3 separate regions of the Homo sapiens genome follow, and regions 2 and 3 are each linked to region 1. The links come from fine-mapping of genetic effects on gene expression. A gene starts in region 1. Each other region holds a variant in brackets. All regions are shown on one strand. Distances are from middle to middle.

Region 1 (4,205 bases):
GTGGCAGGAGCTATGTGACTAGCAGAGCAGGGACACCAGGGGAAAAGAAGGAGGGGCTTATGTGGAGGCTCAGAGAGAACACTGGCCAGTGGCTCCAGCTGAAATACTCCTGGAATTTGGAATTCTCACCTAAATCCTGATCGCCAAGGCTAGTGTGACTTGGTAAAGCAGGAGTGGCCACTGACATCTCCTCACACAAAATCAATGGAACTGGGGAAAGAACAAGGACTACCCCAACAGCTAAACCTGGAGGCATCTCCCTGATAATGACTTCCTGCAACTATGGGTTAAAAAAAATCCAGCCTTAAACATGGTGAACCATGTTGGTGAAGAATGGATACGTGGTATAATGAAGTCCATGGAAGTCCAGGTATCCAGTCCCAGAAAAAGCCAGGGAAGAAGTGTTAAGTGATACTGCAAGCTCAAGATCTGTGCTCATCAATAGGCTTCAAACAACTTCATTTCCTCTCCACGCAAACAACAAAAAAAGGCTTTTAAAATGGTGGCTTTCCTGCAACTGAGAAATGTTTTAAAGAAAGTATAGTGAAGCCTGGCTACATCTATCTCTATTTACAACAGAGTGCTTTTAATATTCAAGTCTAAGTAAGTAAACAGACAGTTGAGAGATTTGCTATTTTGTCTTACTGAGATCCTGCCAATGAAGAAAGTAAATACTCTTGAAAGCAAATGTTTAACTGAGAACTAAACCAAATAAAGTATGGTTGAGAATTTTTAAGTGGTTAATTGAAAAAGACCAAACAAGACCGTCTGTAATTTTCCAAAAATATAGACTGCTTCAAATAGAACCTACGTCCAGTTCTGGGAATCAGCAAATCAATTAGAATCGCATCTGATCAACTTTATGCCCCTTAAGTAGTTTTAAAATTTCAGTACTCAAGTACAATCAATGATGTAATCAGCCTCACAACTTAGTTATTTGCATGAACTTCAGGAAATAACGGCTAACACAGCCCCTTTTGGACAACAGAAGTAATTTTTTAGTTGGAAGAAATTTAATGGAGTTATGGTTCAGTTGCTGTTTACAGCTTGAGAATTAAAACGTTGGGTTCACTCTATATTCAAGAAGACATCCATCTCAAAACCTTTTTTCATTTAAAACTAATCTGTAACTGCAATATGAATACAAATGCAAGTTTTAAAAATTCTTTTAAAATGAGAATAAAAACCTACAGCTTATAGAAACTGTAACATTGTAACAATACGTTTAAAACTGGTCATTGAATGTAGGATTCATAAGTACACATTTTCTCATCTAGTAATTTTTTTGGCATAAGTTTCAGTTCAGGAAAAGTTCAGATGCAACATTTTATGGAGTGTTAAATATTTCTGTACTGGGCAAAACTACTGAACTTCATGGTCACTACCACACCGTCAGCTGTCTGTGAAAAATCTACTTGCAGGGCAAGTTAACAGGTTTCTATGGCTCAAGTTTGCTTAAAATACAGAACAAAAAAAGTCACCTTGGCATGAATATAATTAAGAAATCAGCCGTGTGCTTCTCACGTTTGGGCTCCGAGACGTGGGAGATGCCCGCTAACCTAAGACCTTCCGAGGGCGATGCAAGGACCCGGACAGAACTTTCCCGGCCGCAGACCCCTTCTAGGGCACACCTGGCCTGGCGCGGCCGCGGGGGCCTCGGGGCTGCGCGCGCAACCCGCCCGAGGAACTGTCAACGGCCGCGGAGCCTCGGCAGCCTCGGCGGCTCCGCGCGCCCACAGCCTGGGGAGCCCCGGGAGGCAACGGCAGCCGCGCGGCTCGGGGGCCGGGGTTCCAAGGCGCCCCCGCCGCCCTCGGTCCCCAGTCCGCCCCTCGGAGCCCGCCACGGCCTAGCGCCGCCCGCCTCACCTGTGCGGCCCCGGCGCCTCTCCCGCCGCCGGTCGCTCTCGTAGAAGCCCAGCGTCTCTGTGAGCTGAGGCGCCGGCGGGGGCCCCTGTCCGCCGCTGCCGCCCGGCTGCTCCGCCTCGCCGCGGCCGTCCCGCTGCGGGCCGTCCACGCCGCCACCGCCGCCTTCTCCCGGAGCGGCCGCGTCGCCGACGCCCGCCATGTTCCGAGCACAACAAACTGTCCCCGCCGCCTCCCTCCAGCCTCTGCCTCCGGCCGGCCCCCTCCCCGCCTCGCCCCGCCCCTCGCCGGAGCCCGAGCCGCCGCCGCCGCCGCCGCCATCCGCGGCCCGCCGACCGGCGCGAGCCATTGGCGTCAGCGACGCGTGTGAGGCCGCTGCCGCCGCCGCCGCCGCCACGGTAGCCGCCATCTTCTTCCTGCCCTCGCCGTGGCGGGCGACGGTTTCTCGCGCCGTGGCTGGCTCGGCCGGCCGGGGCACCGCGCCGGGCTCCATGCAGCCGGGCTGCGCGGTCCCGCAGAGCGGGCGCCTCCGGGGCTCGAGTCGGGGACCCGGCAGGAGCGGGCCGGGGATGGCGGCGGCGGGCGGCGGGTCGGCCGTGGAGCCCCGGAGAGGCGGCCGCCACCACCGCTGCCCGCAGTCTGCGAGGTGTCCGGCGGTCCGCTCAGGGCCTCTTTTGCAGACTCGGTGCCCGGAGTGCGCCGGCGCCGCCCGCCAGGTCTTGGCACTGCTGGCGCGGCCGCGGCGGCGGGGGCCCGGCTCCAGATCACCGACCCCCACGAGCGCCGGCCCTGCCTGCCCGCTATTTTGGTTCCATCTCTTCTGCATATTTATGCTTGCCTGTTACATTCCCTGGCCTCTGAGTGTCCTTTGGCAGTTTCCAAAGCATTTGGGCAAGAAGGAGCTTGGGCAGCTTCACAACAGGTGGGGACGCGCAGGGGAGGGGCCGCGGCCGGACCGGCAGAGTTTCAAGGGCTGGCGCGCCGGCGGACTTTCCACACTGTCTTTCGGGACTGGGGTTAGGAGACAGCCCTTGGCCACCACTGTGTCCTTACTTTGTCGCTTTACTTGGGGCTGGACCTCCCCTTTCCAGCTCTGGCGTGTGACCCCGCAACGAGCGTGGTGTCGAGACCACCACCAGCTGGGGCGGTGGGAGCGAAGGTGCCCCAGGCTCGGGGAAGGTGGAAACCTTTTCCCCGCTCCCCAAGTGATTGTTGCGCGCTCCGGTGAGGGGACAGTGGTACCTCGATTTCCCGTGTGCCAGCTTCGGGACTCAGCTGTGCTTTTGTGTCTCTTTGATTAGCAAAAGCAAAACGAATTCCTCCCCGAACACTAAGCTTCCTGGAAACTTCCCTAGACCTAAACTTGAGAACCGCATATAAATGGGCCTTGAGGGTTCTGTCGTCAGTAGCGGGTTACGTGATTGCAAACGAGCAAGTTTAAAACGGAGTGGGCTTTGGGCTGCAGAGCCGCCTGGCATTCTGACAGCTGAGCAGGAGGCAGAGGTGAGAGTCCAAGATGGACTAAAAATGTCCCAGCAGCTGGGAGCCCAACCTCGGCCCAACCTCGTTGAAAGGAGGAACATTCGGTGCAGCCGTCGGAACCTTATTATTTATGAAAGGGGACAGCTCACAGGATTACATTTTTCTAAGCCAATCCTGTGACCATCCTCCATGAAATTCTCTATTTTGGTTGCATGTGGTCAAAACTGAGCCTCACTGAAACAATTGAAAACAAATACTCCCGACAAATCTTAAGAATCGTTTTGAAAATCAAAAGGTGGGGAAAATGTTGTGGCTTCTGAGCTTTCTTCAGCCCATATTCTATTATTCTCTGATGTTTTATGGTGTAAAATCATACCCATTCCATTATGTATTGATTGTCAAGAAGGAAGTAGGCTTTTATTGCTATTTTTATGTCAGTTTCCATTTACTGTCTCACCACATTTATTGGGTTATTGCCTTTGCCTTTGACTCAACAGGAGCTGGAAGGGTAGGAATCCCAAATTCTGTTGCCTAAGGCAGCCAGTTGTCAGAATGGACTTTCCTCATTTTCTATTATGAGGCCTGAGGAAAGACATTCAGTTCCAAAGGCTGTGCCTATCCTTTTAAATAGAAGAGAGAGGGCCCGGCACGGTGGCTCACGCCTGTAATCCCAGCAGTTTGGGAGGCCGAAGGGGGCGAATCACGAGGTCAGGAGTTCCAGACCAGCCTGGCCAACATAGTGAAACCCCGTGTCTACTAAAGATACAAATATTAGCCGGGCGTAATGGCGGGCGCCTGTATTCCCAGCTACTCGGGAGGCTGAGGCAGGAGAATGGCTTGAATCCGGGAGGCGGAGGTTG
Region 2 (4,205 bases), 190 kb before region 1:
TCTCTTTTCTGCATGCTGCCTGCCTGCAAATAGCTAATTAAGAGGAGTCTGCTGTGCTGGGAGGTAAGTCCTTTCTGCAGTCCAAGATTTCTCAGGATACCTTCAAGAGGAAAAAAATACCAAAGGGCTGGCTCATCAGCTCAGCTGGGGCAGCTTCATTACAACGCTAATGTCTGATGATAATGAGATCCTTTCGAATCACTCTAGACAAGCGCTTGTGCTCTCTCTTTTCTGTTTGGTGGGTTTTTTTTTCATTGTTGCTATTTTGTTTAGTTTTAAACTCATGGTTTAACCATAAAAATGTGAGACACTCTTCATCAGCCTAAAACACAATCAGTTGTTGTCCAATATTGTACTTGCCTTATTATTATACAAATCACCAACAGGGAGATTGCAAAGCATTTCCTCAGGAAGGGCCCATTTTCCTTCTGTCGCTGGTGCATTTCTCCACCACATTTGTTACAGCAACGACACATACAAAAGAAATACCCCACCAGAGGCATCAGAATAATAAACAGCAGCCCCAGGACACAGCATAGAATAATCCCTGCTTCATAGTAGACAATCTGCAATTCAAACAAAAGAAACAGCACATATTGTAGCACAAAATAATAAGTAGAACATTCCATGGTGTACAAAGTTCTTTTTTTTTTTTTTTTTTTTTGAGACAGGGTCTCGCTCTGTTGCCCAGGCTGGAGCGCAGTGGCGCGATTTCGGCTCACTGCAACCTCTGCCTCCTGGGTTCAAGCGATTCTTGGGCCTCAGCCTCCCGAGTACTGTATTTTTAGTAGAGACAGGGTTTCACCATGTTGTCCAGGCTGGTCTTGAACTCCTGGCCTCAAGCAATCTACCTGCCTCAGCCTCCCAAAGTGCTGGGATTACAGGTGTAAGCCACCGCACCTGGCCATGTTTCATTTTTTTAACCTATCTGCCATCATTAGTTGAATCTGAATGTGTACATATATATATATATATATGTATGTATTTTTTTCCATTTTGAAACTCCTTTTTGAAACAGAGGAAGCAGAGAATTGAGTAATTAAATACATGGCCAAGTGGTTACTGGAAGATGTCTTTCAACCCCTAGGAAGATGTCTAAATGCTAGTTTGAGCTGCAAATGGTTTAATTTTAACCCCAAAGGTATTTTGTTTGTTTTTAAATGGATCAATAAATCTTGGCAGGAGTACTTGCATAACAATCTACATATAAGGCGCTTTGCACACTGCAAAAATAGAAGTTAAAGATTCAAAGCACTTTGGATTGGCTGGCAAACAATTACTCAAGAATCTGGAATGTATCTTAATTTAGAAAAAAGGCTCAGACTCTAAGTCAGGCACGTTAAACACAGGCCAGTCACAAGGTTCCTCCTCTGATACACTGGAAATAATAATACGTACCTTGTCAAGTCATTGTGAAAATTAGAGATAACGCATGATTAGAAATAATGTGACAAAGGACCAAGCACTGAGTAGACACTTACTAAAGGTGCCTCTCATGCCATGCCCAGGAGCCAGATCCACAGTGAAGGACCGACCTTGGCAGTCCGTGTCTCAGACGGTTCCTGAGTTCCTAGGAACAGCACAATTTCTAGATACAATCATGTGACCTAAACATATTTTCATAATCACTGCTGACTTTATTCCGGGATAAACGAAAATTAATGCAACTAGATGATGAAACTTGATGTCATTCCAATTCATGCATGTAGCTGCTTATATTTCTAAAGAATGGCAGAAAATTGCAAGTTGGCAGTTTGCAACTAAATGGACAATCTAGACAGCTGCGAATTCTGAAGCCAAGCTGAGCAAAGGAAAATAAAACACGAGTCTTGTTCCTGGGAGCAAATGTGATGTCTTGGAGGAGAGACCTGCTTTACATCCCAGCAGGGGGCTTCCAGGTCCCTAAAGTGGATGGTGTCACATTAGCATTAACTTCATAAACATATTGTGAGGGACAAATAACTAAATGACTGAATGTGAAAACAACTAGCCAAGTGCCCAGCACACAGTAGATATTCAATAAATGGTAGTTAACTCTATGAGCAAATGCTCAAGACTAGTAAATCTGGTGCATCTGGCACTTGAATATTATCTACTTCCATATTAAGATTAAATTGCTTAAAAAAAAGAGTGGCTGAATCTTGCTGGGTTCATCAAGTATGTGCTCACGCTTAAGCTAACCCCCATCCCATGTCCACGAAGAGGCATTATTAGGGGACTTAACCCTTCCTCGAGGACCAATACCACTTGTCAGTTAAGAAACCAGCCCAGACATTCCAAACTCTTACTTACGTATTTTTCCATCATTTCTCAGCAAATATTCTAAATTGTTTACTATTTTAAAGAAATGTAAATTCTATCTGAATTCCAGGAGACACTGAACCAAAACCCAGGAGAGAAGATATATTGAAATGTTTTAAATGCACTAATTTTAGCTTTAAATACAAATTGTACATTTGATAACACAGCCTTTCTAATGTTACTGACTAAATATCAGGCAGTATCAGGAACAAGATA[C/G]GGCATTTCAAGAGTTCACTTCTAGGCCGACTAGACGAAGGCCTGTCACTACTTAAACTGTTTTTTGATACACCAAGATCTTCCAGTGCTTTGTTGATTGTGTTGAAGATCAACATGTAAATATTACAGAGATATCTTTCTTCAAAGAGAAGGTTAAAAGTGATGGTAAAAACAGAAATGAAACGGATCATTTAAAAATCTTCACAGTGAGGATGACAGTGAAGAACAGAAAGGCTTTCCAAGAGCAACTTGAAATAGCAGACAAGGACTTTACCTTTAGACCTAAGATTACAGTTTCTGGCTGTAGAAGTCAACGCAGGTGAGGAATTTTGGCAGAGGCAGCATGCATCAAGAAAACAGACAGAAAAAGTTATGAGTGATCAACCATAACCAAGAACATTCATATCCCACAAGGAGGAAATTGGGTGATAGAAGGATAAACATGAGAAAGGAATATAAAACTTGAGTGTGAATTCAAGAAACAGTGTTTTAAGTTGCTCTGAGTTCTGAAATTTACATTTGCATTTACATTTGGATTTCCCAAAAGGTTCTTAATCCGTATGCTAATCGGTTACGCAAAGGAGAATTAGAGGGGAAGTTACAAATGCTTAACACACTAACCATGTGATCTTCATAAAATAGAGAATCAGATCTGAGAACTCCAGAACCAACGGCAGCATCTTCCCAAGTGCCCTTTTCTAAAATAAAAATCTGATGGTGTTATTCCCATGCTTAAAGCGATCAACGGATTCCCACCATTTTTATTCCAAACATCTCAATGTTTGATTTTAAATGTCCTTTCGTGGCAAAATAAAATTAGGTGGCTCTATGTCATTTTCTAGATCACTTTTTTGAAATATTCTGGTCCAGGAAATCTAAAAGTGTAGAAACTATTGCCTCAGCTGGCAGATCTTCACAGCTCTGAGGGAACACCATTTGTGATGGGAATCACTTTTAAATGAGGCATCCAAAATACTGGGACTGGGGGGCAGTTCAGATATACCTGCCTCTGGGGTCACACAGGGCATTTTAAATGATCCCGGTCTCCCTTTCTTGGGGAAGGGGCACGCAGGCTTGTTACCAACCAGGGCACAAGCTCCCAAGCTCACCAGACACAAAGAAGCACCTCACAGTGTGTGTTAAAGAAAAACATTGACTCCTGGGCTCCTCTGCTACAGCACATGAGTCAGAAGATATGGGTAAGACCAGGAATCTGTGTTCCCTGAGCCTCCCAAATAAACGACTTGCCCTGGAGTCATTGGTGTAGGGTCTGCTTCAGGGGGAACCAACCCAACACACTCAGCCTTTATCAGACTAAATCTAGTCAGAAAGCCCTCCTCTAGATGTGGCCTGGATCCTTTGGTGCCTTTGTTTAATTAACCTCTTTCTTTGGATAATGGTAGAAAGCATGGTCCAGTTCCACATCTAGAGTAGGAATCAGCTCATTCATGTGGGCTCAGTTCTGCATCTTCTCTCCACTGCACCCCCACCCAGAGTTTTTATTCATTTGCAAAGGCAAGGAAAGAGAGCAGGAGCCAGGGGTATAAACCAAGGTTATGGGAGTGCCAAATCTAATACCAAGTCAAGCACAAAGACCCTGCCAGGGACGGTGGCAGCCCAGCTCCAGCTCAGACTCACAGGTTCCTCAAGGCCACCTAAGGGTCTCAGGACCTCGTTCTCCAAGTCCC
Region 3 (4,205 bases), 180 kb after region 1:
ATCTTGAATTAATTTTTGTATAAGGTGTAAGGAAGGGATCCAGTTTCAGCTTTCTACATATGGCTAGCCAGTTTTCCTAGCACCATTTATTAAATAGGGAATCCTTTCCCCATTGCTTGTTTTTCTCAGGTTTGTCAAAGATCAAATGGTTGTAGATATGTGGCATTATTTCTGAGGGCTCTGTTCTGTTCCATTGATCTATATCTCTGTTTTGGTACTAGTACCATGCTGTTTTGGTTACTGTAGCCTTGCAGTATAGTTTGAAGTCAGGTAGCCTGATGCCTCCAGCTTTGTTCTTTTGGCTTAGGATTGACTTGGCGATGCAGGCTCTTTTTTGGTTCCATATGAAATTTAAAGTAGTTTTTTCCAATTCTGTGAAGAAAGTCATTGGTAGCTTGATGGGGATGGCATTGAATCTATAAATTACCTTGGGCAGTATGGCCATTTTCACGATATTGATTCTTCCTACCCATGAGCATGGAATGTTCTTCCATTTGTTTGTATCCTCTTTTATTTCATTGAGCAGTGGTTTCTGGTTCTCCTTGAAGAGGTCCTTCACATCCCTTATAAGTTGGATTCCTAGATATTTTATTCTCTTTGTAGCAATTGTGAATGGGAGTTCACTCATGATTTGGCTCTCTGTTTGTCTGTTATTGGTGTATAAGAATGCTTGTGATTTTTGTACATTGATTTTGTATCCTGAGACTTTGCTGAAGTTGCTTATCAGCTTAAGGAGATTTTAGGCTGAGACAATGGGGTTTTCTAGATATACAATCATGTCATCTGCAAACAGGGACAATTTGACTTCCTCTTTTCCTAATTGAATGCCCTTTATTTCCTTCTCCTGCCTAATTGCCCTGGCCAGAACTTCCAATACTATGTTGAATAGGAGTGGTGAGAGAGGGCATCCCTGTCTTGTGCCAGTTTTCAAAGGGAATGCTTCCAGTTTTTGCCCATTCAGTATGATATTGGCTGTGGGTTTGTCATAGATAGCTCTTATTATTTTGAGATACATCCCATCAATACCTAAGTTATTGAGAGTTTTTAGCATGAAGGGTTGTTGAATTTTGTCAAAGGCCTTTTCTGCATCTATTGAGATAATCATGTGGTTTTTGTCTTTGGTTCTGTTTATATGCTGGACTACATTTATTGATTTGCGTATATTGAACCAGCCTTGCATCCCAGGGATGAAGCCCACTTGATCATGGTGGATAAGCTTTTTGATGTGCTGCTGGATTCGGTTTGCCAGTATTTTATTGGGGATTTTTGCATCAATGTTCATCAAGGATATTGGTCTAAAATTCTCTTTTTTGGTTTTGTCTCTGCCAGGCTTTGGTATCGGGATGATGCTGGCCTCATAAAATGAGTTAGGGAGGATTCCCTCTTTTTCTATTGATTGGACTAGTTTCAGAAGGAATGGTACCAGCTCCTTTTTGTACCTCTGGTAGAATTCGGCTGTGAATCCATCTGGTCCTGGACTTTTTTTGGCTGGTAAGCTATTGATTATTGCCATAATTTCAGAGCCTGTTATAGGTCCATTCAGAGATTCAACTTCTTCCTGGTTTAGTCTTGGGAGGGTGTATGTGTC[C/G]AGGAATTTATCCATTTCTTCTAGATTTTCTAGTTTATTTGCGTAGAGGTGTTTGTAGTATTCTCTGATGGTAGTTTGTGTTTCTGTGGGATCGGTGGTGATATCCCCATTATCATTTTTTATTGCGTCTATTTGATTCTTCTCTCTTTTCTTCTTTATTAGTCTTGCTAGCAGTCTATCGATTTTCTTGATCTTTTCAAAAAACCAGCTCCTGGATTCATTAATTTTTTGAAGGGCTTTTTGTGTCTCTATCTCCTTCAGTTCTGCTCTGATTTTAGTTATTTCTTGCCTTCTGCTAGCTTTTGAATGTGTTTGTTCTTGCTTTTCTAGTTCTTTTAATTGTGACGTTAGGGTGTCAATTTTGGATCTTTCCTGCTTCCTCTTGTGGGCATTTAGTGCTATAAATTTCCCTCTACACACTGCTTTGAATGTGTCCCAGAGATTCTGGTATGTTGTGTCTTTGTTCTGGTTGGTTTCAAAGAACATCTTTATTTCTGCCTTCATTTCATTATGTACCCAGTAGTCACTCAGGAGCAGGTTGTTCAGTTTCCATGTTGTTGAGCGGTTTTGAGTGAGTTTCTTAGTCCTGAGTTCTAGTTTGATTGCACTGTGGTCTGAGAGACAGTTTGTTATAATTTCTGTTCTTTTACATTTGCTCAGGAGTGCTTTACTTCCAACTGTGTGGTCAATTTTGGAATAGGTGTGGTGTGGTGCTGAAAAAAATGTATATTCTGTTGATTTGGGGTGGAGAGTTCTGTAGATGTCTATTAGGTCCGCTTGGTGCAGAGGTGAGTTCAATTCCCGGGTATCCTTGTTAACTTTCTGTCTCGTTGATCTGTCTAATGTTGACAGTGGGGTGTTAAAATCTCCCATTATTATTGTGTGGGAGTCTAAGTCTCTTTGTAGGTCACTAAGGACTTGCTTTATGAATCTGGGTGCTCCTGTATTGGGTGCATATATATTTAGGATAGTTAGCTCTTCTTGTTGAATTGATCCCTTTACCATTATGTAATGGCCTTCTTTGTCTCTTTTGATCTTTGTTGGTTTAAAGTCTGTTTTATCTGAGACTAGGATTGCAACCCCTGCCTTTTTTTGTTTTCCATTTGCTTGGTAGATCTTCCTCCATCCCTTTATTTTGAGCCTATGTGTGTCTCTGCACATGAGATGGGTTTCCTGAATACAGCACACTGATGGGTCTTGACTCTTTATCCAATTTGCCAGTCTGTGTCTTTTAATTGGAGCATTTAGCCCATTTACATTCAAAGTTAATATTGTTATGTGTGTATTTGGTCCTGTCTTTATGATGTTAGCTGGTTATTTTGCTCGTTAGTTGATGCAGTTTCTTCCTAGCCTTGATGGTCTTTACATTTTGGCATGTTTTTGCAGTGGCTGGTACCGGTTGTTCCTTTCCATGTTTAGTGCTCCCTTCAGGAGCTCTTTTAGGGCAGGCCTGGTGGTGACAAAATCTCTCAGCGTTTGCTTGTCTGTAAAGTATTTTATTTCTCCTTCACTTATGAAGCTTAGTTTGGCTGGATATGAAATTCTGGGTTGAAAATTCTTTTCTTTAAGAATGTTGAATATTGGCCCTCACTCTCTTCTGGCTTGTAGAGTTTCTGCTGAGAGATCTGCTGTTAGTCTGATGGGCTTCCCTTTGTGGGTAACCCGACCTTTCTCTCTGGCTGCCCTTAACATTTTTTCCTTCATTTCAACTTTGGTGAATCTGACAATTATGTGTCTTGGAGTTGCTCTTGTTGAGGAGTATCTTTGTGGCGTTCTCTGTATTTCCTGAATCTGAATGTTGGCCTGCCTTGCTAGATTGGGGAAGTTCTCCTGGATAATATCCTGCAGAGTGTTTTCCAGCTTGTTTCCATTCTCCCCATCGTTTTCAGGTACACCAATCAGACGTAGATTTGGTCTTTCCACATAGTCCCATATTTCTTGGAGGCTTTGTTCATTTCTTTTTATTCTTTTTTTCTCTAAACTTCCCTTCTGACTTCATTTCATTCATTTTGTCTTCCATCACTGATACCCTTTCTTCCAGTTGATCACATCAGCTCCTGAGGCTTCTGCATTCTTCACGTAGTTCTCGAGCCTTGACTTTTGGCTCCATCAGCTCCTTTAAGGACTTCTCTGCGTTAGTTATTTTAGTTATCCATTCGTCTAATTTTTTTTCAAAGTTTAAAACTTCTTTGCCATTGGTTTGAATTTCCTCCTGTAGCTCGGAGTACTTTGATTGTCTGAAGCCTTCTTCTCTCAGCTCCTCAAAGTCATTTTCCGTCCAGCTTTGTTCTGTTGCTGGTGAGGAGCTACGTTCCTTTGGAGGAGGAGAGGCGTTCTGCTTTTTAGAGTTTCCAGTTTTTCTGCTCTGCTTTTTCCCCATCTTTGTGGTTTTATCTACTTTTGGTCTTTGATGATGGTGACGTACAGAAGGGTTTTTGGTGTGGATGTCCTTTCTCTTTGTTAGTTTTCCTTCTAACAGACAGGACCCTTAGCTGCAGGTCTGTTGGAGTTTGCTAGAGGTCCACTCCAGACCCTGTTTGCCTGGGTATCAGCAGCGGTGTCTGTAGAACAGTGGATCTTGGTGAACCACAAATGCTGCTGCCTGATCGTTCCTCTG

Which allele goes with the higher level. Alleles are on the strand shown, and positions count from the first base shown. SD is a standard deviation of normalised expression in the study named. Not every link is listed here.
In carriers of allele C in region 2, the expression in aorta of the gene that starts at base 2,079 in region 1 tends to be higher than with G alone (moderate effect, 0.43 SD a copy in GTEx).

Evidence for each region. PIP is the estimated chance that this variant, and not a neighbour inherited with it, causes the effect. A credible set is the group of variants that fine-mapping cannot tell apart.
Region 2: its variant is the best candidate, but not a certain one, in a credible set for the expression of TAPT1 in aorta (GTEx, PIP 0.62).
Region 3: its variant is the best candidate, but not a certain one, in a credible set for the expression of TAPT1 in whole blood (INTERVAL, PIP 0.62).

What each region holds. Positions count from the first base shown.
Region 1 is chr4:16,224,393-16,228,597 of GRCh38, forward strand. It overlaps TAPT1 (transmembrane anterior posterior transformation 1), which reads right to left and starts at 2,079. Exons shown (of 14, transcript NM_153365.3): 1 at 1,867-2,079. The coding sequence starts at 2,065. TAPT1-AS1 (TAPT1 antisense RNA 1) reads left to right here and starts at 2,271. Exons shown (of 3, transcript NR_027697.1): 1 at 2,271-2,785. RefSeq lists silencers at 1,632-2,011, 2,122-2,171, 2,182-2,281, 2,292-2,361, 2,422-2,621 and an enhancer at 3,132-3,191.
Region 2 is chr4:16,032,944-16,037,148 of GRCh38, forward strand. It overlaps PROM1 (prominin 1), which reads right to left. Exons shown (of 28, transcript NM_006017.3): 4 at 2,792-2,818; 5 at 361-566. Among named protein-coding and RNA genes, the nearest start is that of PROM1, 49 kb to the right of the region's middle. The variant C/G (reference allele first, on the strand shown) is at 2,518.
Region 3 is chr4:16,403,546-16,407,750 of GRCh38, forward strand. All of the region lies in intron 1 of LOC105374505 (a long non-coding RNA gene), which reads left to right. Among named protein-coding and RNA genes, the nearest start is that of TAPT1-AS1, 180 kb to the left of the region's middle. The variant C/G (reference allele first, on the strand shown) is at 1,589.